Regions from separate parts of the Homo sapiens genome. Here region 2 is reported to be linked to region 1. The links are microRNA targets in miRTarBase. Many come from high-throughput screens and were not tested one by one. Region 1 holds a microRNA gene; the other region holds the end of a gene's coding sequence.
What was found. Region 1 holds the annotated microRNA hsa-miR-218-5p (UUGUGCUUGAUCUAACCAUGU, at 2,194-2,214, opposite strand). A microRNA usually pairs through its seed, bases 2 to 8, with sites in the 3' UTR of a target mRNA and lowers its output. Matches are read on the target gene's strand: a 7mer-m8 pairs with bases 2 to 8, a 7mer-A1 pairs with bases 2 to 7 and ends in A, and an 8mer does both.

Region 1 (4,068 bases):
TCAGGAGTTCAAGACCAGCCTGGACAACAGGGCAAAATCCCATCTCTACAAAAAGTACAAAATTAGCTGGGTGTGGTGGTGCATGCCTGAGGTCCCAGCTTCTTGGGGAGATGGGGGTGGGGGACTGAGGTGGGAGGATCCCTTGCGCCCAGGAGGCCAAGGCTACAGGGAGCTGTGATTGTGCCACTGCACTCCTGCCTGGGTGAGATAGTGAGACTCTGTCTCAAAAAAAAAAAAAGTACTATTGTGCTGGAAGGTATCACTTGTTTGTAGTATTATAGGTAATAAGCATAAATCCCTATATGTCTATAAAAAATAAAGTTCAGGGCCTTGGTTGCATGGACTCCATGCATTTCTAAAATTCCTGGAGCTGTGAAATAGCTTCATCAACTAATAGGAGTAAAAAAAAAAAAATCACTATAACTACAAGATAGTGGGTTTCTGTCAACTCTTTGAAAGGCATTACTTTATTTTTAGTTATTCAAATTGCTAAAAATTAATTAAGTACAGGCATGAGTATAGGCACAGTGAGAGATAAACAATAACACACAATCCCTGTCATCAAGGAGCTATAATCTAGTTAAAGATGGAAGGATTATATACAAACAAACAGACAACGAACTTTGCAAAGCAGTAAATGACAAATACCAGATGGTGCTATATATAAACATGGCTAAGATGTTTAGAGAATGATGAGGTTTTGCTAGTTTTTTCCCTGAATTGTTAGAACACTAACATTAAAGGTCCTCTTCTTATAAATAAAGTCAGTAAAGGCAAACCATGCATGGGCATAGAATCTGTAAGTGCTCCAACAAACACCTTAGCACTTAGTATGTGCAAGGTCCTATGTTAAGGCTGTTAAGTGTAAATACCATCATATTCTGCCTTTTCAGCTTTTCTTGCATTGTTCAGAAAAAGCTATCCTTTCTACTTTAATACTTGATAACCACTGAATCCTTCTGCCCGTAAGTCAATGAAGTAGTAAATTAGGTAAGACAGACTCCTTGAATCTATTGATAGTTTACAGAGATTGAAAATGGAGGCTCTCAAACTACTTTATTTAGTTGCTATAAGAATTAAATACGTTAAAAACTAAGTACTTAGAAAACAAATTGGGAATAAATAATACCCAATAAATAAGCATCAAATAAATACCATTGTTATTAGTATGAAGTGCTTACTGAATTTTGAGAGATAAATTAGTTTCTGTACTTAATCGTATGGTTGGCTAGAAAGATGAATGAAGGTAGCCTCTAATATATTCTTGTACAAAATAGAGTTATGCCAATGTAATGCATATTAATTAAAATTAATGCAATTATTAATAATAAAAATGGCAAGACAAACATTCTTATGCTTTAATGCTTTCATTCCCTCCATCCCAACCAGAATTTTGTTGGGGGATGAACTTACAACTCTGCAGTGTACTGGGGAATGTGCTCCGGGATTTTGTTGAGCTTTTGATTAGAGCAATCTACTGTGGTTCCTTCACAGCGACACTTTTCAGGGCAAGCCAGATCCGCAAAGCAGTCTCCACTTAATTTTGATCGATAATCTTCTGTACCTATTGAGAATTCAAACCAAAAAAAAGATACTGAGTCTAAAGGTTAGAAAATTTATTAGTTTGTAGGAAGAAAAAAGTAAGATAACTATAGATTATGTAGCAGGGAGACAACTTGGGGTATTTTGGTCAATGGATGTCAGGAGAAAGGTTAAAAGAAAGGCTTGGAATTTTCTGGAAAAAAGAGTGACCAGATTCACATGACAGGAAAACATTAATAAAGTTGAGCTTTTCACAGCTGTACTTTCTGCTGATCCAATTCTGAGTCATTCTAGCCTACTTCACAGCTAGTCACACAATGGATATTAATTATTAAAAAGTTTATTTTTTTTCTCGGAGTCAAGAATTGAAAATATATCCAGTAATAAACATGATCCTATATCTCATTGTAAATTAGGGCTTTCAAGGCAAATAGATATACTCAGGCTTTTAAATTTTCTATGGACTTTTTACTATTCTCTCCCTCTCACATAATCTCGGAGATGCCTAAAAAGCCCTCTTTTTTCATTTTGATTTTGTAGAAAGAGACAGGAAAATCCTGATTTAAGCCTCAGCAGCTTGTCATGCTGTAGAAAGCTGCGTGACGTTCCATGGTGCTTGACGGAACCATGTTTTACTCATACCTCGCAACCACATGGTTAGATCAAGCACAACAGAAAATCTCGCTACATTATCACTACACCAACCACTAGGCCAAAGGTAAGACCAAGAGGAAAATGGAGGGAAGGAGGAGAAAAGCTACAGACGTTCTGGAAACGTAATACTGTTTACATGACATGCATTCTTCCCGCAGAATGTTTATGACCACAGTAAGAGTATTACTACCGATGATTTCCTGGAAACACAAAGAAGGGGCTATATGGAAAAGGTGCCTCCACCATTCCTCAGAACTGCAGAATGGAAACAACAGCTTTCGGGAACAACATCCAGGAAGAAGTTGAAGGTGAGCTACAAGGACAACAGAGAAGCTCAAAAGATCTGTGGTTTCTTCTTGAAAAAAAGGTGCCAAAGACCAAGACTAGAAGAAGGTACATCAGGATTGAAAAGGGAGGGTATTATGTTTCAGATCAGACACTTTTACTTACAGCCAAAATGGTGAATTCCTGCAAAAGTAAAGATCACCAAGAAGGAAAGAAAGAGTAATCCCAATTAAGATTAATATACATATTTATAAAACTAAGCTCTCTTCCTTCTTTCTTTATTATGGGAATTATTGAAAAAATAGCATGATGTGATGGGAATTGTCATGCTTTGTAAAATTTTATAAATAATATTTTGAAGCACGGTGGTCTCACAAGAAAACCAATGTAATAAAAGATGCATAGTGCAAATTAAGTTCTTGATTCCTTTAAAAGATGAACTCTCAAGGCCGGGTGTGGTGGCTCACGCCTGTAATACTAGCACTTCGGGAGGCCAAGGCGGGCGGATCACAAGGTCAGGAAGTCAAGACCATTTCACCTGACGGGTGAAAACCCATCTCCAGTAAAAATACAAAAAATTAGCTGGGCATGGTTGCGGGCGCCTGTAGTCCCAGCTACTCGGTGAGGCTGAGGCAGGAGAATGGCATGAACTCGGGAGGCGGAACTTGCAGTGAGCCGAGATCATGCCACTGCACTCCAGCCTGGGAGACAGCGAGACTCCATCTCCAAAAAAAAAAAGATGAACTCTCTGCAAGACAGATTTTCTTTTATCACTGTAATATGTAGAGTGCCATATAAAATGGTAGTAGCGAGGTACACACGTAAAAGTGAATGAAAAACTAATCATGGAGATCCTCAAGGACAATCATTACAACATTTGGATTAATCCTTATGTTGTGATGTACACTTTTTAATGAACTTTTCAACTTATAAATAATGTGTCTTAGTGGAAATGGAATCAGAATCTCATAAGAAGTTTGCGATGGTAAATATAATCGTTTCATTACATTTGGCAGTTAATGCCATGATATTTACTGAGGATCTGGTGTCTTATGATTTATGCTTCACTCCAAAATGAAATAAGAGTGCACAAAGTCTAAGTGACAGGTACACTGGATATCTTGCAATTCAAATAATCTGCATTCAACGGAACAGTAATAATGCTTATTTTATGGTGGCTTGTTAGGTGGACTCAAATTTTAATTAAAATTTTTGGAAAAAAGGGGAGGAAGCCCAAATGATCCTTTTGAGTCCTGGCTTCTACAATTATCATGTTTAAAGAATGTAAATTAAATTATCATAAATTGAAACTTAAGACATGATATTTGATATAAAAGATAATTTCCAAATCCTATTTTGGCTGCTGTCAGTAACAGGGAAAAACTATATCAGAATATATGAAAACAACCTGACTTTTGTTCTTTATTTAGTGAATTGGAAATATTAAACTTACCAATTATTAATTAAGTATATTTAAATGAAATAGTTTGAATAATTTGATACCAATTACATTACTGCCATAATTTTAGGATTTAAATCATATTAATGTTTTATTCTATAGGTAGTCTGGTGTTTAGAATATGGCTT
Region 2 (4,068 bases), not on the chromosome of region 1:
TTGTTCCTTTTCTGATTGGCGCCAGGCTTATAGACCCCATGTAGGTAGAATATAACTTTCCATAAATAACCTCTAACCCGACCTACAATTTAGCCTTCAGGTTTTTTTCCCCCTCGTGGTAATGGGATTGCAGCCTGGGCTGATCCATCCTGTATCTTCAGGTCCCAGAAAGCAGACCCTAGGTTTGGACATTGCTTGGAATTCCTGGTACCCCCATGTTGCCTTGCACATGGCAAGGACTCGGTACATGTTGAGGAATGGTGGATTCTCTTCTACCCATGAGCAGCCATGCACTTGCAGTCTTTGCTTGGGCTATGCCTTCTGCCTAGAAGCCCCCTTCTCCACCTGGAAAATCTCTAAGCAGCACCCACTTTGTGAAGCTTTCCCTAACCACTATCCCTCATCCCCTCCACAGAGCAAATTACTCCTATCTTGGATTCCCATAACACTTGGTACAAAACAGTGTGACCTGGTTATTGCCCATGTGCCCACCAGGTTCTAAGCAGCTCAAGTGAGGGGTAGGGCAAGGAACTGAGCCCAAGTATGGCTGTGGGCAAAACATTTAACCCCTTGGTGCTTCAGTCTCCTCAGATTCAAACACCAACCTGGGGCTGGGTGTGGTGGCTCACGCCTGTAATCCCAGCACTTTGGGAGGCCGAGGCAGGCAGATCACTTGAGGTCAAGAGTTCGAGACTAGCCTGGCCAACATGGTGAAACCCCGTCTCTATCAAAAATACAAAAATTAGCCAGGCGTGGTGGCACGCACCTGTAATCCCAGCTACTCTGGAGGCTGAGGCAGGAGAATCACTTGAATCCGGGAAGGCAGAAGTTGCAGTAAGCCGAGATCGTGACACTGCACTCCAGCCTGGGCAATAGAGCGAGACTCTGTCTCAAAACAAACAAACAAACAACACAAACCTGACCCAGAGCCCGTGTCCCCACCCACTGGACCGCACTGCCTCTCAGGGATGGAAGATGTCTCTGTTTCCTACCTGCTCTCATATTCTGGGCCCTGAGACACTCATGATGCATGGATTTTCTGCAGGGGCTCACTGAGGCCTCCTCGGGGGCTGGAGCCCCAGGAAGGGACCGGCCACTGATACCCACTCACACCTATCAAAGACTTGATGATGATGATTAATTCAAGTGGGTTATTGGTAGTTAAACTGACAAGTCATCAGGAGGGACCTCAGCTTTCTTTGTGGGGGTGGGTTCCCCCAAGGTAGGCTGGACTTAATTTAAAGCTTTCCAGTTGACCATCCCACCTTAGGGCAACTGAAGAGTAACTTTAGGGTTACTCTTCATCTGAAGATGCTAACTCAGCTAGCATCCAGCACTATTAAGACACCTTGGGGAGGCGAGACTTTGAGAGAAGTGCAGGAGGCTGGCCCACTTTTGAAGATCCTACATTTCTACCCAGGAGGCATCAAATCCACACTTCGAAGAAGATGAAGTTTCCTGTGAGCTGGTCCTGAATTGTACTTGGCTTTGTGTTGTCTATGCCAGTACTAAGCAGGACTTGGCCAGGCTGGTCCTCCATGAATGACTGTCAAATGGAAAACAGAATTAGGAACCAAAGTAGTGGTGTAGACAAAAGGGGCTGGAACCTCAGAGGAGAGAGGGATCATGGGAGATTGGAACATCTCTGGAAGGTTAGGGGAAGAGATGACAAGTAATGTGAATCCTAAAGAAAGAGGATTAGTTATTGGGGGTGCTAAGTGTGGATGGCAAACTAAGGAAGCAGGGATCTGCATGACCATTTGGAGTCAGTAGGAAGCTTGGTGGAGTGGGAGGTGGGAGTCAAGCAGAGAAGGCCTCCCATGTCAGATAGGGAAACTGCACTTGATCCTGGGCAAGGGGGAGCTATGGAAGGCTTTTGAGCAGGGGAGTGATACAATGAGAACAGCATTTTGGAAGCCAGCATGGAGGGGAGGCTGCTAAAAGGATACAAGGCTGAGGTTATTACCATGCCCTGGGTGAAGAAATGCGGTCTGGGTTTGGAAAGGAAGGGATAAACATGACTTTTCAAAGGAAGACATAATTGCCACAAGGGCCACCAGAGAGCAGTCAAAGGTGTGTCCAAGGTTGGAGCTCTAGTGACCAAGAGAAGGGTGTCAACTTTGACAGAAATGACGTCATGTGTGGTTGACAAAATGAGACCACATCCTTTCGGTCATGATTCATTGTCTTTATTAACAATGTCTCTGGACTCTGGAAGAACAGACTGTTAATTCATAAAGCAATATTAACATTGTCATTCTCTACAAGAAAAACTTTTGCATAAATAACTTAAGTGAGAAAATAAATATGTAACTTAACTCTTTAAAAACCACTACTTTCATTCTTGTGGACAAGTCCCACGTGGAAGAATTGCCAAAAAAACGACCAGTCCTGCAGGCTTTCATATGTCATGTGCTTCTGTTTAAAACTTTTTTTTTTTAACAATTAAAAACTACACAGAAAGTAAGAGGTTGTCTGGAAATGATTTTCAAAAAGATTTTTGGGTGGCAGTATTATGCTCTGCAGTTTCTCAGCATATGTACAGCACTTGTAGTTTTTCCCCCAATAATATTCTTTTAGTGTAAGATATGCCATCACATGTAAGAGCAGTAAGAAGCTGTTTTCTAGGCAGAAATGTGTCCGTGAGTGGTGGGCAGAAGGCGGTGTCTCAAAAGGGATGTGCTGGTCTGTGAGTTTGTGATGGCTGCTCCCTCGGGCCTGCAAGGCCAGTGTCCTTGAACCTTTCACTTCTCTTCGGAAGGTGACTTTAAAACATGGCTATGGGTCGGGGGAGGGATGCTGCTCTTTGGGAAGTTGGGGCGGATGTGATTTCTATCCCTCCCACCACCCTCGGACCCTCTCCTTTTCTACCCCAATGGATGATGTTATTTCTTTGAGATGGAGGGGTGGAGGTAGCCAAACATCCGGGGAAGCCAGGCTGGGAAGCAGCATAGCTTCTTCCAGGAGTTTGTCAGCCGTAAATATGTCAGCCATAAATAGACTCTTTACTTTTTTTTTTCTGTTTGTTTTTCATCTTTGGCTGTCAGAAGAGAGCATCACAACTCTGAATTCTGGAAGTGACCTTGGCACTGAATCAATGCAACTGCATTCATTCTCTCTCTTTCTCTCTCTCTCTCTCACCTCTGCCCATTCAAAAGGCACTGGAGTCCTTGGAATCATATGCCAATAGTCTCCTCGAGATCCTATTCCCACCTCCACCCTCATTTTACAAAGTGGAAATTGAGGTCCCGAAGGAGAATTGTGTAGTTCAAGGTTACACAGCAAGTTAGTGGCAGAGCCAGGACTAGAAACCACATCTACAGTTGCCCCCAGTCTTGTGCTCTGGGCACGCCTCAGGCTTTCTGATGGGCAGCGAGGTGCAAGGGGGAATCTTATCCAACTTTCTTAACCAGTCCCTGGACTTTCCCACTCCCACACCGCTCCCTTAAAACCCCAGGGCGGTGAAAATGCTTCCATTTCTGCCTCCTCTGAAGTGGGACCAGCAAAGGTAGGCGGCCCCAGAGGCGGGGCTGCGTGGCTCAGTGTCTGTGACTCTCAATTCCCTCCCCTGCCCCGTGGGACCCCTCAGCTGGCGGGCTGAGGGGGGCCTTGCCGGCGCCCGGGATTCCTCAGGGCCTGGAAGGTCTCAGCCCCCTGCCCTGGGTTGCAGGCATTTACAATGAAATATAAACAATCAAACCACGCGCAGAGGACAGAAATGTGGGGCGCGGGTTCAGGGCCGGGGCGCCCGCCGGTGGGGAGGGGCGCGGGCGGGCTCTAGTAGGCGTTCTCCAGCTCGGCCTGGTTGGCTTTGGCGCTCCGGGCGCGGGGCCGCGGCTTCCGGCCCTTCTGCGGCCGAGCGGCCTCGGTCCCGAAGTCCTTGAGCTCCGACTGGTTGTGGAAGCGGGTGAGGCGCTTGCACTTGCACGAGGCCACCAGGCGCACCTTGCGCGCGCGCGGCGCCTCACCACCGGGACACAGCAGCTGCACGCGCTGCGCGCGGTAGCGGTCGGGGATGCAGCGGAAGTCGGGCCCACTAGGTCGCCACCACTTGCCGCGGCCGATGGC

Region 2: the mRNA of SOST is a reported target of hsa-miR-218-5p. Seed matches in the 3' UTR shown: 7mer-A1 at 3,336-3,342 and 7mer-m8 at 2,412-2,418.

The regions. Positions count from the first base shown.
Region 1 is chr4:20,526,445-20,530,512 of GRCh38, reverse strand. It overlaps MIR218-1 (microRNA 218-1), which reads right to left and starts at 2,238; the gene lies at 2,129-2,238. SLIT2 (slit guidance ligand 2) reads right to left here. Exons shown (of 37, transcript NM_004787.4): 16 at 1,414-1,564.
Region 2 is chr17:43,751,565-43,755,632 of GRCh38, forward strand. SOST (sclerostin) reads right to left here. Exons shown (of 2, transcript NM_025237.3): 2 at 2,174-4,068. The coding sequence ends at 3,778. Among named protein-coding and RNA genes, the nearest start is that of SOST, 5.2 kb to the right of the region's middle. RefSeq lists a silencer at 2,757-2,959.